Regions from separate parts of the Homo sapiens genome. Here regions 1 and 3 are each reported to be linked to region 2. The links are microRNA targets in miRTarBase. Many come from high-throughput screens and were not tested one by one. Region 2 holds a microRNA gene; each other region holds the end of a gene's coding sequence. Distances are from middle to middle.

Evidence for each region. The annotated mature microRNA hsa-miR-4695-5p reads CAGGAGGCAGUGGGCGAGCAGG and lies in region 2 at 1,831-1,852, shown strand. An mRNA with a match to its seed (bases 2 to 7 or 8) in the 3' UTR can be bound and repressed. Matches are read on the target gene's strand: a 7mer-m8 pairs with bases 2 to 8, a 7mer-A1 pairs with bases 2 to 7 and ends in A, and an 8mer does both.
Region 1: miRTarBase lists RD3 as a target of hsa-miR-4695-5p. Seed matches in the 3' UTR shown: 8mer at 3,013-3,020.
Region 3: the mRNA of TRIM6 is a reported target of hsa-miR-4695-5p. Seed matches in the 3' UTR shown: 7mer-m8 at 4,303-4,309.

What each region holds. Positions count from the first base shown.
Region 1 is chr1:211,474,334-211,479,631 of GRCh38, forward strand. RD3 (RD3 regulator of GUCY2D) reads right to left here. Exons shown (of 3, transcript NM_001164688.2): 3 at 2,189-4,994. The coding sequence ends at 4,703. Among named protein-coding and RNA genes, the nearest start is that of RD3, 15 kb to the right of the region's middle.
Region 2 is chr1:18,879,804-18,885,101 of GRCh38, reverse strand. It overlaps MIR4695 (microRNA 4695), which reads left to right and starts at 1,827; the gene lies at 1,827-1,900. ALDH4A1 (aldehyde dehydrogenase 4 family member A1) reads left to right here. Exons shown (of 15, transcript NM_003748.4): 6 at 1,674-1,823; 7 at 1,904-1,978; 8 at 3,215-3,402. RefSeq lists a silencer at 742-973.
Region 3 is chr11:5,610,551-5,615,848 of GRCh38, reverse strand. TRIM6 (tripartite motif containing 6) reads right to left here. Exons shown (of 8, transcript NM_001003818.3): 7 at 5,288-5,298; 8 at 2,897-5,072. The coding sequence ends at 4,507. It overlaps TRIM6-TRIM34 (TRIM6-TRIM34 readthrough), which reads right to left. Exons shown (of 14, transcript NM_001003819.4): 7 at 5,288-5,298. It also overlaps a transcript of TRIM5 not described here. Among named protein-coding and RNA genes, the nearest start is that of TRIM34, 12 kb to the left of the region's middle.

The DNA of each region.
Region 1 (5,298 bases), 190 Mb from region 2:
CTTTGTAAACTGTAAAGGGTCATTAAAATGTTAATAAAAGAGTTTCTTGATGACAAAGCCTTTTCTGTCCACAGCAATATTATTGGGCTGGCTTATTTGGATAAAGTACACATTTCCCCTGTTCCTTTTACAGTTTGGAGACTTTTTTTTTTTCCCTAGTGGCTTGATTTCTTTTCTACTAAGGAGAGGTTAACTTCAACTGTATCCCCCTTTGCCTTGGATTCTAGAGAGGCCTATGGCCCTGAGCAGGTGCCAGAAGTGGCTTCGAAGCAGTTAGCTGCAGTGCTCAGTTCACATAGAGAGGAACAGCTTGTTCCTGGAATGTAATTTTCCCTGAACCAAATCCTAGCTGAGTTGGGAGACTGAGCTGGAAAACTTCCAAGTTTTACTGCCGAGCTTTAAGAATATTGTGTTTGTTTCAACAAGGGAATTGTAACTAGAATGCAATACAATAAAATGTTTTAGAAAACACTTCCCAACCTCTATTGGCTTGTGAACACCTTTTACGGTTATATAAAAACTTGCACATTTTTAGAAACTTAAATTATTATTTTTGCCTTGAATATGATAAAGAAATAATTTTTGTTTTTGTCTTTAGCACCTTAATATTATAATGCTAATTTGATGCAATATGTAATAATATTTGTAAAGGGAAATAGATGTCAATTTCCCCTTTTAACAAATGAGTCAAGGTAATAAATCAAAATAATTTTCTAAAAATAATTTGTCTATGAATAAATTTTGAAGTAACATTGTGTTTTTTTGGGAGACCATATGAATATTAAGACATAGACTGAAATTTAACTATGTGATGAACAATGGCATCAAAAATAGACAAACTTTTTTCATTATCTGCTATTGGAATTCTTCAGATTTCCCCTGAGTTATTTTGATAAATGTTAGTGTTTTGTTTCTAAATGGCAAGAAAAAGGGAGAAGGTTTTAGGTTGCTATTTGCAAGCATGTCCTAGTAAATAAAACATATGATGTGACAAGTATTTTCATCAAATGAAAAGTCGGGTTAGATATATTGTCACTATCAATTTTTTTTTTTTGGGACAAAGTCTGGCTCTGTCGCCCAGTTGAAGTGCAGTGGTACCATCTCAGCTCACTGCAACCTCCACCTCCCAGGTTCAAGCGATTCTCCTGCCTCAGCCTCCTAAGTAGCTGGGATTACAGGCATGTGTCTCCATGCCCAGATAATTTTTGTATTTTTAGTAGAGATGCGGTTTCACCATATTGGCCAGGCTGGTCTTGAACTCCTGACTTCACGTGATCTGCCCCCCCACCCCGCCATGGCCTCCGAAAGTGCTGGGATTACAGGTGTGAGCCACCATGCCCAGGCCACTACCAATTTTTAACATTACGTTTCAAAGTATGAAGGAATCTTGGTTCCGACTATGGAAGAATTTTAATCAAATAACATAACGAGGATCTGAGTAAAGCGTATCATTAGGCTAATTTGCAGAATTTTTATCATTTGTGTTCAGTCACTAACTTATTGCATGTTAACATGAGTGTTCCGTAAGCACTCTATCTTTAAGCAATGCTTCATTATGGAATTACATAATACTATATGACCACTGTAAAACAAACTGCAAATAAAATATAATAAAATAACAACAACAAAAAAATAAACTGCAATTTTCTTGTCAATGTGTGGGACTTGATTAGATCCTTGTTCAAAGGAATAAACGGCAAGAATCATTTCTTGGGAACAGGGAAATGTGAATATGGACAGGGCATTAGGTAATATTAAAGAATCACTGTTAATTTTGTTAGGAGTGATAATGGTAGTATAGTTATATAGGAAGAAGTTTTTATTCCTATGTAGTGCATACTGAAGTATTCAGGGGTGAATTGTCACAACACCTTGGGATTTATCTTAAAATACTCCACACACAAAAATAAAGACAATATGGCCAAATGTTAGTAACTATTAAACTTTCATGGTAGGTATATGGGGCTTCTTAAACTTCTCCCTCTACATTTTTGTGTTTGAAGATTTTCATAAGTTAAAAAAAAAAATGTAGTCACCAAGTAGTACAAGCCTCCCACCCACGCCCTCTAGTGGCTAGTGGTATTGAGCTGGGTGCAAACAGGCTGGCTGTGGTAGTCTTGAACACACTCAACCCATCCCCTCCAAAATAACACCAGCCACTCATCAGATACTTACAAGGACACTCTCAAACTTTTTGTTCTTTTATTTGTGGTTATTGAGGTTTCAATAATAGTAATGGAAGCAGACCTCATTAGTCCCTTTAACAACCTGAATCCAGAGGAACAACTTCTGGACCCTCATGAATTTGAGAGCCACCAGCTGGGGATAGCCTGTAGTAGTCTGAGGAGTGTCTAAGGAGGGTGGTGGATTCTGTCCACATGCCTGCGGCTCGAAGGGAAGGTTTTCATTGGCAGCCAGTTACTTAAACTTAAGAAAGAACACCACATTGAAAGCCTAAGGTCTTCCTTCTCTTTGGGGAGAATAGGTACATGTAAGGTGATAGGGAAGGAGAAAAATAGACATTCTCTTATCCAGCCTCCTTTGAATCTCCCTCCAGGTTAACTACTTCCTCTAAAACATTTGCTGACCCACATCCAGGGCACCCGGAAAGCCCACAATGTGGAGGCCTTTTTCTAATCCTCCCCCAACACTTTTGCCCCTACCAGCTGAGCAGTCTGCTTACCAAGGGTCACTTCTGCTTGTTCCAAAACTCTTTTACGCCAGTTGTTCTTATTGTTATGATTAAAGTGCAAACCAAGAAAACTTAAGTGTAGAACTCCCACCAGACAAAACATATAGGTCACAAAAAAGCACAGCTTGGACCCACATCAAAAGTTTGGCAGCCAGGCACAGTGGCTCATGTCTGTAATCCCAGCACTTTGGGAGGCCAAGGCGAGTGGATCACGAGGTCAGGAGTTCAAGACCATTCTGGGCAACATAGTGAAACCCCATCTCTAATAAAAATACAAAAATTAGCTGGGGTGATGGCACGTGCCTGTAGTCCCAGCTACTTAGGAGGCTGAGGCAGAAGAATCACTTGAACCCGGGAGGCAAAGGTTGTGGTGAGCCGAGATCACGCCACTGCACTGCAGCCTGGGTAACAGAGTGAGACTCAGTCTCAAAAAAAAAAAAAAAAGTTTGGCAACCAAGTGAACTTTTTATGTCTTCAAATAAAATACGTAAGATGTTTAAGATGTATATTTTAAGTGATTCTCAACTTCTACCAATTACATTAATAAGCCAATCAACTCTTTCATCTTGATAGTGTTGGATCAGAGGTTTTCCACCATCCTATGATTCTCTGTCCAGATTCAAGTGAAAATCCAAAAAAACTTCAAAAGGGAAGTTCAAAACCAAATCATTCAAAAAAACTTTTTTCCACTGAGGGAATACACACTTTTCCCCCCTGTTGATTATATCTCCTCCGGGTATTTTATTTAGGCTACTATTAAGGTCCACTTGCATTTTCTGCATGTGTGCTGGTAGTTGAGGGTAGACACTTCCCCACCCATCCCCCTTACACCCCACTTCAACCCCAGAGTGTGTGGGAAGGCCTCCTGGCCTTCCAGATTTTCCATGGGTGATCCACACATTGGGTAATCCACATGCCCATCATCAAGGCCTAACCATGTTAGAAAAGGGAAGGACAATGAAGCTGCAGGAAGCTCTTCTAGAACATTTCACTCAGCTGCCTCAAGGTCAGTCAGGGGTTTGGGCATCACTTTCTGGAGAAAGCCAGAGAGCAGGTGTGACCAGCTGCAGAAAGCGGAACCCTGGAATTGAGAAACCTGGGCTCTTTAGGGCAGCATCTGAAGTCCTTGGAGCTGAGCCTCTGGAAGAAGCTGTTAGGGACTGGCCACAGCCCATGCGATGACATTGTGGCGTGGGGTAATGAGTAACCTACCTCCACCCCTAGCTACACTTCTTGGAGAGCAGCTTAGATTCTCATCCCACTGCCAAGGTAAGAGATGGATCAGGCCACAGGTAGGTAGAGATGTAGCCTTTGGACCTGTCCCTTCATAGCCCAGGATTCCAAACTCAGGAACAGACACTATTCATGCAGGAACAATCTCACTGTTCATGAGGAGCTGGCTGCAGTTAAAGGCAGAAGAAGTGTCCCTCTCTGAGCCTCAAGTTCCACATTTACTAGCTGAAGAGAGTGGATCTAAATGTCTCTCTGGTCCCTTCCAGCTGTGCCTGCCTATGAGGCTGTGTGTGACCCACCTGCAGTGGTGAGCTCAGCCAGTCACTAGCAAGAAGGCATACCAGCCAACAGGTCCCTTCTCATTGGGGATGGGGGTAGGGGGGTGAATGGGACATCCCTGAAATTGGGGTGAGAACCTAGGTCTTGCCAAAAGGCAGGGCAACTGTCCCCTTTTAGACAGAACCAGGAGATGAGGATGGGGCAATGGTCTGTCTTCCAAAACCTTGAATCTGCCAGTTAGGGAAGGGGCTGCTCCTGCAGACTAGCGCAGGAGAGGGAGAGGGCGGTGCCGCTCTACGACCTAACTCAGCTTTGTGGCCAGAGGAAGAGGATGGGGCAGGGAGTCGCTTCATTTTATAGCAGCGTCTTGGGATGGGGCCGCCTCTTGGGTCTCCTCGTCAGGCCTAGGTGGGGAGGTTCCAGGGCCCGGCGCTCCGGTCACCGGCCTATCATTCCCCCTGCAGAAGGCTCCGCTTCTGGGCAGGGAAGCGGCCGGGGTCAGTCGGCTTTGGGCGCCCGGAATTCGGGCATGCTCCAGGACCGCAGTGGCGGCGGTGTGTCCCGCTCCACGTCCTCGGAGATGGTCCTGATGTCGCTGGCGAAGGGCGAGATGCGCGCGCGGGTCTTGAAGGTGGCCAGGCTGCCGCGGGGCCGCAGGCTCCACTGGCGCGTCAGCTTGTGGGCCTCCTCTTCCTGCTTCATCCTCTCCAGGACCTCCTGCAGCACCGAGCGGAAGAGCTGGGACACCTCCTGCACCTCGGGCTCCTGCTCCGCCAGCAGCTGCCGGAACCTGGGCGGGAGGGGAGGGCGCTGGGGACATTCACCCACAACAGCGGGTCTGGCACCCCGGGCGTCTAACCCCGAGGGGCTGCCCGTGCATCCTCATGGCCAATTAGTCCACTCTACTCTGCTCCTGAAGCGAATCAGGAACCACCCCACGCTGCTACTGCTTCAACCAATCCTGCGTTCAAATCCCAGCTCTGCCACTTCTGGCCTCAGTTGGCCTCAGCCTCCTCGTCTGTAATCTGAGATGACAGCTGCCTTTGTGTGAGCTATAATGAACTAAGATATGTAAAGATCCTGACACTTACCTA
Region 2 (5,298 bases):
TCCTGGCTTATGACCCACCCAGACCTCTCCACCACTGAGAGGCAAGTCCCAAGACCTGAGCCCCATACCCAGGGCCCTTCTGCCCACCTCTGTCCAGCTCGCCCACTGCTCTGCATTTCCCTGCCAAGCTGTCCTGCCCATAGTGTAGCCATTTGGCACTTAGCAGGACTCCCCGGCCATGGCAGGCATCCTCTCTGCCTCTGCCCACGTGTCCTCCTGCCTGGAATGCCTGCTGTCTCTTCCGTGCTCAGTGAACTCTTACCTCCTGGTCCAGCCCAGATGTCACCCCCTCCGTGAGACTTCCTGAGCCTTCTCCAGCCGAAAGGACTATTCCTGCCTCTGTTTCCCCAGAGCATGTTGTTCCTGCATCAGTTACAGCTCAGATTGCACTGGAGTGTATTGAGTTCCTAGGTACTGCCCCTTTACAAGCTTTTTGGACATAGTAAACATGTCTTGACATTCTCGGTCTTTTTCTGGGCTTTGCATGATACCTTTCAGGAGGCATAGCAAGCCCCTGATCAATGGTTTTCTCTGCACAGAGCTGGCATGACAGCTCCTCACCCTGCTAAATGCAAGTTGAGTGAGGAGTGGCTCTAGCAGGCAGAGTGTGCGGGGGACAGGAGTCGAGGGAGAAAGGGTTATTTCACCACCTCCAGGACCTGAGCCCTACGCTGCCAACTAACCTGGGTTCCTGAAGGGTAAATTGCAGGAGCCAGAACCCAGGCTGCTTTCTGGATCAGGCATTTGCCACTGCCTGCTCCTCGGTCCCCATGGTGAGCGCCCCCTCTGCTGCACAGAGCTGGTATGACAGCCCCTCAGCCTGCTAAATGCCTTCTTAGATTGGCTCAGCAGCCCTCTGGGGTGGGCGTCAGCTCTGCGTGTTCCTGGTGAGCCGCACGTTGCTGGGAAGACAGTCTAGGATCAGTTTAGGCTTTCTCTGTATTTGGCCTAAGACTCAGGAACTTCTAGGAAGCAAGGTACACATCTTAGCTCAGCTTCATGGGCTGTGTGTCTCTAATAGGTCGTGCACCTGCCAGTGACCTTGGGTGCCAAGAGGAGGCCACGTCAATCTGGAAAAGCCCCGTTCTTGGCTGTCCACAGTTCTTTTCCCTGCAGCTCACATTTGCTGTTATTAAGAATTGACGGTTTAAGGGAATCACAGTCACTCGCCTCTTGGTTTTTGGCCCAAACTAACCAGCAAGGCCGAACATCATTCCTGGGGAAGGAGCCATCCACCTCCCACACACCGAGTCTCTCTCCTGGTTTTCCAGTGACCAATCTCCAGCTCATGCTAATCTGCCCTTCTGTCTGGAAGGCTCTGATCCTGAATTTAGTCTGAGGCTTGACCATAGATCCTTTGCCATGCACCACCATTCAGAGTTGCTATGAAATGAAGACAGTGCATGGCAAGTACCTGGCCTGCTACAGAGGATCACTAAAATTCTTCTGATCCCCGTCCAGCCCAGAGGGCCGGCTACAGGAGGTGCTAGCTCAGGGGCTTGAGAATCCTTTCCCCCTCAGCCCCTGGGATGGGACCTGGTGAGCCCTCCAAATGTTTCCTGGTCCCTCCTGGGGCCCGGCTCAGTGCTCGCTTTGGGCACAGCGTCAGATGTGAGAAGAGGATGGACAGGAGGCTGTTGGCTGCTCCTGACCCCCGGCCCTCTGCCTTGCAGGGTAAGACCGTGATCCAAGCGGAGATTGACGCTGCAGCGGAACTCATCGACTTCTTCCGGTTCAATGCCAAGTATGCGGTGGAGCTGGAGGGGCAGCAGCCCATCAGCGTGCCCCCGAGCACCAACAGCACGGTGTACCGGGGTCTGGAGGTACCTGCAGGAGGCAGTGGGCGAGCAGGCGGGGCAGCCCAATGCCATGGGCCTGATCTCACCGCTGCCTCCTTCCCCAGGGCTTCGTGGCGGCCATCTCGCCCTTTAACTTCACTGCAATCGGCGGCAACCTGGCGGGGGCACCGGCCCTGATGGTGAGATGTGGGCACAGGTGGGACAGCGGCAGCTGGTTGTCCTCCTGGTCCCAACAGACAGACAGAGGCCACCCTGAGCCCCTTGGGTCTCAGCCTAGTCATGGGGAGAGGCACAGAAGGTGGAGGCAGCTTGGGGCTGTGGGTAGGCTTTGGGACCAGAGACCCAGTTTGAATCCCAGCGTCGTGCCTCTCTGCCTGGGAGACCCTGGCAATCCCTGAACTTCTCTGAGGCACAGTTTCCTCATCTGCAAAGTGGAAATAATAGGAAAGCCTCCATGACTGGGTTGTGAGGCTCAAATGAGACACATCCAGCAGCAGGCAGGGCTGGCCCGGAGCTGGCTGAGTGTTGGTGGCTCTGTTGATGATCATTACCGCTGACCTTCAGTGCTCACCACGTGCCTGCTGCTGTCAAGCACGGCATGGAGATGATCTCATTTCATCCTCTCAGCAGCTTCGAGAGGGAGTTGTGACTCTGCCTCTTTGCCAGATGACAAAACTGAGACACACAGCCGTGACTTACTTGGCAAGACTGAGTGACTAGTAAATAAATGATGGAGCAGAGAAAGATTTGGATGTAGTCTCTCTCGGGGTTGATGGTATTCAAGTCACTCCTCTGCCATTATCGGAGTGAGGTTGGCTATTACTGGATGAAGTCCCAGGCCTGTGGGGGAGGTGCAGCCCAGCTCCCAGACAGCCTGGGTGGGAGAGGTCCACATAGTTGTCGGGAACCCCGAGCCCCAGACAGGGGCACTGGATGCTGATGCCGGAGTGTGTACTAGGGACATGGATGGGGACGTCCTCATGCATCTGTGCACAGACAAACACGGTGCATGGCCAGGCGCCCACGTGCCTGGCTGCTGCACATGCCTGACCCAGGACATGTGCTGAGAGAGCCCGTGTGTACTTGCCCCGCCGCGCCCGGTGAGCACTCAGTGACTCTAGCAGTAAGAACAGACCTGCCTAGGTGATGGCAGGACCGGTTGGTGCAGGCTTCTGGGGAAAGGGAGCCTTGGCCAGAGCGTGGGGCAGATTGGGCTGTGCCGTGGCCTCCTTGGCAGGGACTTTTGGAGATAGGGCCAGACGCCTTGGAGGAGTGGGGTCGGGTAGGGGATGTCCTGGTTGGCACAGAGTCTGGTGGTTCCAGGTGAGGGACAACCATGCTGTAGGGTAGGGTGGGGTGGGGGTTGGGGGCTGGTGGCGCCATCCTCATGCATCACTGAAACACCTCCCGGGCAGGGCAACGTGGTCCTATGGAAGCCCAGTGACACTGCCATGCTGGCCAGCTATGCTGTCTACCGCATCCTTCGGGAGGCTGGCCTGCCCCCCAACATCATCCAGTTTGTGCCAGCTGATGGGCCCCTATTTGGGGACACTGTCACCAGCTCAGAGCACCTCTGTGGCATCAACTTCACAGGCAGTGTGCCGTAAGTCCCTGGGGATGGTGTAGGCTGTGGTGGCTAGGGGACGTTCACCTGCTCACCTGCTGTCTGCCTGGGGATGGGGCTGTGAACCCAGGGGTCATGCACGGACTCTACTCCCTTACTTGCTGTGTGGCTATGAGTGAGCCACTTCACCTCTCTGAGCTTCCATTTCTTCACCTGTACAGGGAGTGATTATCCTTAATTTGCAGAGTCATTGCAAGGATTAAACATGTTAATGAACAGGAAAGAGCTTCGCAGACTGGAAGTGCACCCTACAGCTGTGGGTAATATTGATTTCAGTGCTACCTCTGCTACTGGAAAGGGCACAGGGGAGCACAGAATGAACTGGAGGAGTCAGGAAGCCTTCCTGGAGGAGGTGACATCTAAGCAGAGGAGTTGGCCAGGCAGAGGGGAAGAGGCAGGAGAAGAATATATATGTTGGGAGAGGGAATAGCACATACAATGTTGCCAAGCCAAAAACTTGTGCTCTGGGGCATGGCAGGATCCTGTGTGGCTGGAGTGTGGAGTTTGGGGGCGACAGGGCAAGAGAGTGAGGGCAGGGCATGGTTTGAGTTGAGGTAGGGGAGGCAGGCCACTACCTGATCTCGACCATCCATGCACTCACTGGCTGAGCAGGAAATTTGGAGCTCACACTAAGGCTCAGTGGTGAGCACACACCAGGGACAAGGTCCCGGCTCTCAGGCTGGAGGTGGCGGCAGGGAGTGGTTCAGTGACCATAAGATACTTAGGAGTCTGCAAAGGTGTCTGGCCTTTATCCTGAAGGTGATGGGAGCCATGGAAGGCTTCAAGCAGGGAGAGTGGCTGAGTCAGAGTTCTGTGTCAGGCAGAGATTGCAAATAATGGCCCCCAAATTGGATCTGGCAAGAGGCTCTACTTTCTTTGACTCCTAACAGTGATGGCCCAACTTTGTATAATTGGGACAATTTCATAGATAAATCCAAATATTGGCCTGTCTTGGTCCCCTGGACCTGGATGCTCTGATCTTGCATTTCCTGGTGGTACCACTGGCTGGAAGTGGGTGGGTGCCCTCTGGCTCCCTGCATACCTGATCCACGCTGTTTCCTTTCCCTGCTGGCTCCTCTGGGCCCCTGTGTTGGCACCCTCATTCTCAGTGATCTCTCTGTGACCTGATGCAGGAGACTGGCCAGGGACTGTTGACCTCCAGGGAGGGGTGGTAGGGGCTTGAACCAGGGGAGAGATGGGGGATGTGGAGAAGGGGGCAGGTTCAGGTGAGAAGGATGCAGGGAGGCACAGTGGCCATTGCCTGTCCTGGAGTTGGGGTTGGGGTGCGTGTGGGGATGAGGGGGGTTGTCAGCGAGAATGTTCAAGATGGGCACCTGGGAGGGCGAGCGGGCTCGGGGGAAGATGAATCTCCTGTTGGTCACTTCGGGTGTTATCTGGGTGGAGATGCCTGGAGGCAGCCAGACGCCCGGGTCTGCAGCTCAGGGTCCTTCTTACCTCCTCTTCCAGGCCCCAGGCTCTGCCACCCCCTTCCCCGCAGCTTTGCTGGGGGTGGGAGTGGGTGGTGGCAGCGTTAGAACTGCTGAGAAGGGCCGTTTTCCAAAAGGCCTGCTCTGCCAGCCACGGGCCCCTGGGCTCCCCGCCTATCAGCGGGCGGAGCGGGCCTGGACCCCATTCTCCACGCTCTGATGAGCAGCGGGCTTAAAGGTGGGAAGGCCATAAATTAGTATTAGCTACTGTGTCGCTGGCTCCCGGGTGATTAGCATTTTTATTGTTTTGTGGTGCTGAGGTTGGTCACACTTGGAGCCTGGGGAGGAGGCGAGGCCCTCCAGGGTGGTGGCTTCGGGCGGGGCCTGAGCTCCCTCTCCCAGGACTCTCCTCGGTTTGGCCTCTCAGGCCTGGGCGCTGGGCTTGGGG
Region 3 (5,298 bases), not on the chromosome of region 2:
GGCCGAGGCGGGTGGATCACCTGAGGTCAGGAGTTCGAGACCAATATGACCAACATGGTGAAACCCCGTCTCTACTAAAAATACAATATTAGCCGGACGTGGTGGCAGGTGCCTGTAATCCCAGCTACTCGGGAGGCTGAGGCAGGAGAATCACTTAAACCCAGGAGGCAGAGGTTGCAGTTAGCCAAGATCACGCCACTGCACTCCAGCCTGGATGACAGAACGAGACTCCATCTCAAACAAACAAACAACAACAACAACAAAAAAAAAACAAAAAACAAGAAAGCTGGAGTGGCTAAATTAATACCTAACAAAGTAGAATTTGGAGAAAAAGATATTAGTAGAGATAGAGGGTCATTCCATAATGAGAAAGGGGTGTCAGTTCATCAACAGGATGTAACATTCCTAAATGTGTATGCTCCTTACAAAAGAGCTTCAAAAATCAGAAAGCAAAATCTCATAGAATTGCAGGAGAAATAGGCAAATCCACAAATATAGTTGTATATTTCAACACCCCTCTCTCATAGAAAAGCAGTAAAGATACAGAAGATTTGAATAATATCAACTAACATGATGTTAATTGAACACTGTACCCCAGGACCACAGAATACACATTTCTTTCAAGTGCAAATGAAACATTTACCAATATAGATCATATCCTTTACCGTAAAACAAGTCTCAATACAATTAAAAAGGATTCAAGTCATATAAAGTCTGTATCTGGACCATTTAAAATTAAATTATAAACCAATAACAAAAAGATATATGAACATCCTCATAGATTTGGGAAAAAATATAATTTTAAATAATTCAATGGTCAAAGAAGAAATCAAAAGGGAAAATAGAATCTTGAATAGAATGGAGAATATATCAAAATTTGTGAGATGCATTTAAAGCCACAGAAGGAAATGTATAGCTCTAAGTGCTATATATACAAAAAAGAACCCCATCTGATTTATTGCCTTGATGGTGATGAGTTTCACAAGTCAAAATGTATCAAGTTATATACTTTATGAAATGTATTATATGTCAGTTATATTACAATAATAATGTTAAGACAGTCCTCTTCCCCTAAAAAGATTATTTTTAAGTTAGAATCAAACTTACATGCCAGCTCTAACAAGCACTCGCTTGTTGGGAAATATTAGGATAACTATACCACATGTCTAGAACTTTAGTGACAATACAGTTCTCTTTTACAAACTTTAGGCTATAGAATGGAATTAACATAGTTCCAGAAAAAAGCTGAGATCCTGAGTCCTCTATAATGGGAAAAAGGATTACTTAGGGTTCCAGGCAGTTTCCACCAAAATCTGAGTTTTCTTTTCCTTGAAATTTGATTGTACATGATTGCATACAGCTAGACATTTAAAAAATCTTTACAGTTAGGTTTAGCCCTATGGCTATTCTCATTAATAGAAAATGAGCAGATATTACGAATCCCATCTATGAACTAAGGATTTAAAAAGCACGTTTTCTCCCCTAAGTTTTCTTCACCTTTCTGCCAGCTTCATGCTGTTACCATTCTGGGGTACAGCAAGTGCCACAAGATGAAAGCAAGCTTGGTGCATGAATCCCACATGGAACAGTGCCACTCACCACCAGTTACATACACTCATGACCGATTGTTTTACATTAACAAGAAGTACATTTCTTTAGTATTTGATCCATTATGTATTTTTAGAGTTCTTTTTCATAGTAGTTGAGCCTACTCTATCACATGTCAAGAACAGAAGGCCTCTGTCAAGCCCCCATAACCCCTCAAGAAAAGGTCAGAGCTGTGAACTTACCCTAATAATTGTCCCCAAGTCTCAGATTGAGCAACCTTCCCCAGGTCTTACCTATAGAATTCCAGCAAGTACTTAGTTTGGCTTTCACTATTATCTAAAGTCATTCACTGGACAATACTTTGGGTTCTCCAAGTGAATTTACTTATAAAGAAGTAAATATCACAATAAAGCTGTTAAGAAAGTCCCTCTCCCTTCCAAAATCTTCTTTTTAAGTTAGCATCAAACTTAAATATCGGCTCTAGCAAGCACTCACATTTTGGGAAATATTAGGATAACTATACCACATCCCTAGAACTCTGGTGACAAAAAAGAAAAATTACTTATAAAGTAAATTCACTTGGAAAGTAAATTTACTTGTAAAATGAGTTTACAGAAGAGAGCTGGGCTAACTCTTTTGCCTAGAACTTACTTATTATATGGGAAAATAAGTGGGAAGGGGATAACTACTCCAGCAGATCTTTCTCTTTCCTGAACTTCCACCAGCCCCATAGGTCCCAGTCAGCTGGCCCTATCTCCTTTTATATCTCTTCCAATTGAAACGCAGACCAGGATAAGGAGTTTGCATCCAGCCTCTGGGCTTCCACAGATATGATCTCCCAAATATTATAAAACGGTGCCTTAGAACAAACCAGTAGTGAGCTTTTACTATAATCTGCACTACTTTATCTCACCATAGACACCCAAGCTGAGCCTTGATAACAAATCAGTGTTTCATCAAACCATGAAGGAGCTTCAAGTGCCCAACAGACTGAGGACTAACGGCAGGGGCCAGAGTCTGCAGAATCATTCTCTGGTCATGAGCCCTTTCTATGATCTTCCAAATTTCTACACTTCTAGATATGTTGAGATCTTCTTTTCTCTGTCATTACCTTCCATAAAAATGCCTCAGGGCAGCTGGGAAGGTGCAGGTTCTGTAGAGATAAACATATGTGCCTTGAAACCTCCTCTGTATCCTGAGTCCATAGGCTTTTACACTAGGGCTCACTTAGGGACAGAAATTTCATTATAGGATCTACTCCAGAGTTGTCCAATAGAAATACAATGTAAGCCACATATGTAATTTTAAGGTTTCTAGTATCCACATTAAAAAAGTAAAATGAAACAGGTAAAATGAATAACATACTTTATTTAATCCAATAGAGCCAACATATTATCATTGCAATACACAAAGGAAAAGTTATTAGTGAGATATTTTACATTATTTTTTGAAGTAGGTATTTGAAATCTGGTATATATTTTATACATTGAGCACATCTCAATTCAGACTAGGCATGTATGAAGTACTCAACAGACATTGGTGGCTCCTGGATACCATATGGGACAGCCAGTGCCATTCTCATCCTTGATATTTGTTTCTACCCTCACATGTACCTCTTAATTTCTTTTATAGCTGGTTCAAAAAACATATTGCACCTCTCTACCAAAGTCATAGCAGCTCACTCAACAGCTGTTTGTTCCTGCGCATAAAGAGAGTGTGGAAAAGCTGGAAGAAATCATCCTCTTCCTTTAAGTGCTTTATATTGTTCATATTTTCTCTTTGTGTTTTCTTTCTATTCTGAGAGAAAAATATGTATTGGATTGTTTTTCTCTCCCCACTACTCTTTTGTTTTTACTGCAATTAATTTGAAAGACGTATTTTTTTTTATTGTTCTATTGCTACTCTTAAATGTAGAGAGGAAGGCCAAAGGTTGTAGTGAAGATTGTAGTGAAGACTCTCTTCAATTTGAGTTTGAAGCTACCCAAATTATCATTATAATGGTTTGGTTTTAGAGCTCAATCCTATACATACTTATACAAAAACAAAGTAATTTATTTGCTTATTATTGCATTTTATAGAACCTGGCAAAGATATTACAAGAATGTAAAAATACAGGCCAATTTCTTTCATTAACATAGATGAGAACAAAATCTAAACAATACGTTATCAAAATAAATCCAGTATTGCATACAACAAATAATAATGGTGTATTTCAGCAAGTTGTGGTAACAAATTGAAGTAAATCAATGTACTAAGCCACATTAACAGAACAAAAATGATACACAATTGTCTCAATAATTTACAGAAAAGACATAGGTAGAATACGAGTTTTCATTTTATACAAAAACTTGTAGTAAATTAACAGATCAGAACTTCCTAAATTTGATCCCCTGCATCAATCAAAAAAAACCTGCATCAAATACTATGCTTAATGGCAAAATACTGAAAGCGCCCCCTATCCACCTCAAGACCTGTCATCAGTCAAAGATGCTTACTCTCACCACTGGGTGCATCCTAGTACTGAGTAACTGTTTAAAACGAAAGAACTGTCTGGGCGCGGCGGCTCACATCTGTAATCCCAGCACTTTGGGAGACCGAGGCGGGTGGATCACTTGCGGTCAGGAGTTCGAGATCAGCCTGGCCAACACGGTGAAACCCTATCTCTATAAAAATACAAAAATTAGTTGGGCATGGTGGTGGGTGCCTGTAATCCCAGCTACTTGGGATGCTGAGGCAGGAGGTTCGCTTGAACCCAGGAGGCAGAGGTTGCAGTGAGCCGAGATTGCGCCAGTGCACTCCAGCCTGGGCGACAGAGCGAGATTCCATCTCAAAAAAGATTCAAAAACCAAAAAACAACAAAAGAATTGAGAACACAGAAAAACAGAAGATCAGAAGGGAGAATCACATGCTGATAAGCCTCAGGGTACTTATCAGAAGTGGGTGGGAACAGAAGAATATTCAAGAGCTTGGACGACGCAGGGTCATAGGAATTACACAGTTGCAAGGATTAAAATATGGACAAAGAGTAGTGGGAAAGTAATATTTAGAGAAAGTGTAGATGGGGAAGCCATGGTTTGTGACATTATAAAAGGAGACAGTACCAGCCTCATAATCTAAGAAAACCCCAACACGGCGAGGGGGCACTGTCATGGAGAGAAGCAGGGAAGGGGAAGAATCCTCATAGGCCCTATATTCATGGTTATGCTGTAACCCAATCACCCAGTATCCACTCTGAGGCTGATACCTGGAGTAAGCACTGTGATTTTGAGCAAAATGGTTGAAAGAGAATGTAGGTCCCAGTGAATTGCTGCATACCCCCAGGATCCAGGCAGTCTTCTTGGCCACATCTACCTCCCAGTAATGCTTACCAGAGGAGAAGTGCTGGGAGCCCAGGACACTACAGTCATAATGCTTTTCCAGACAGGAAGGTCCAGATACTTTAGCTCCCACAAACCTCACTTGTCTCCGGTTTTTAGCCAGGACAAGATTTAAATTAGCTGTGTGTGGATTCAGGGTCACGTCAACTGTAGGAAAAGGTACAACATCAGCAGATGAGAACGGGGACATGGGTCTCGTTATGCTGAGAAGAGGAAACACAGGAAGTGGTTGGAGGAACTGGAACTATATGGCGGGGATGGGGGAGGCATCAACACCTAGGATCTGTGTGGCTATGTCTGGGGAGGGCATGTGAAAGGAGATCAGAATGTGCCAGCCCAAAGAGGCCATGGCTTCTACTTACCCCAGTAGCTT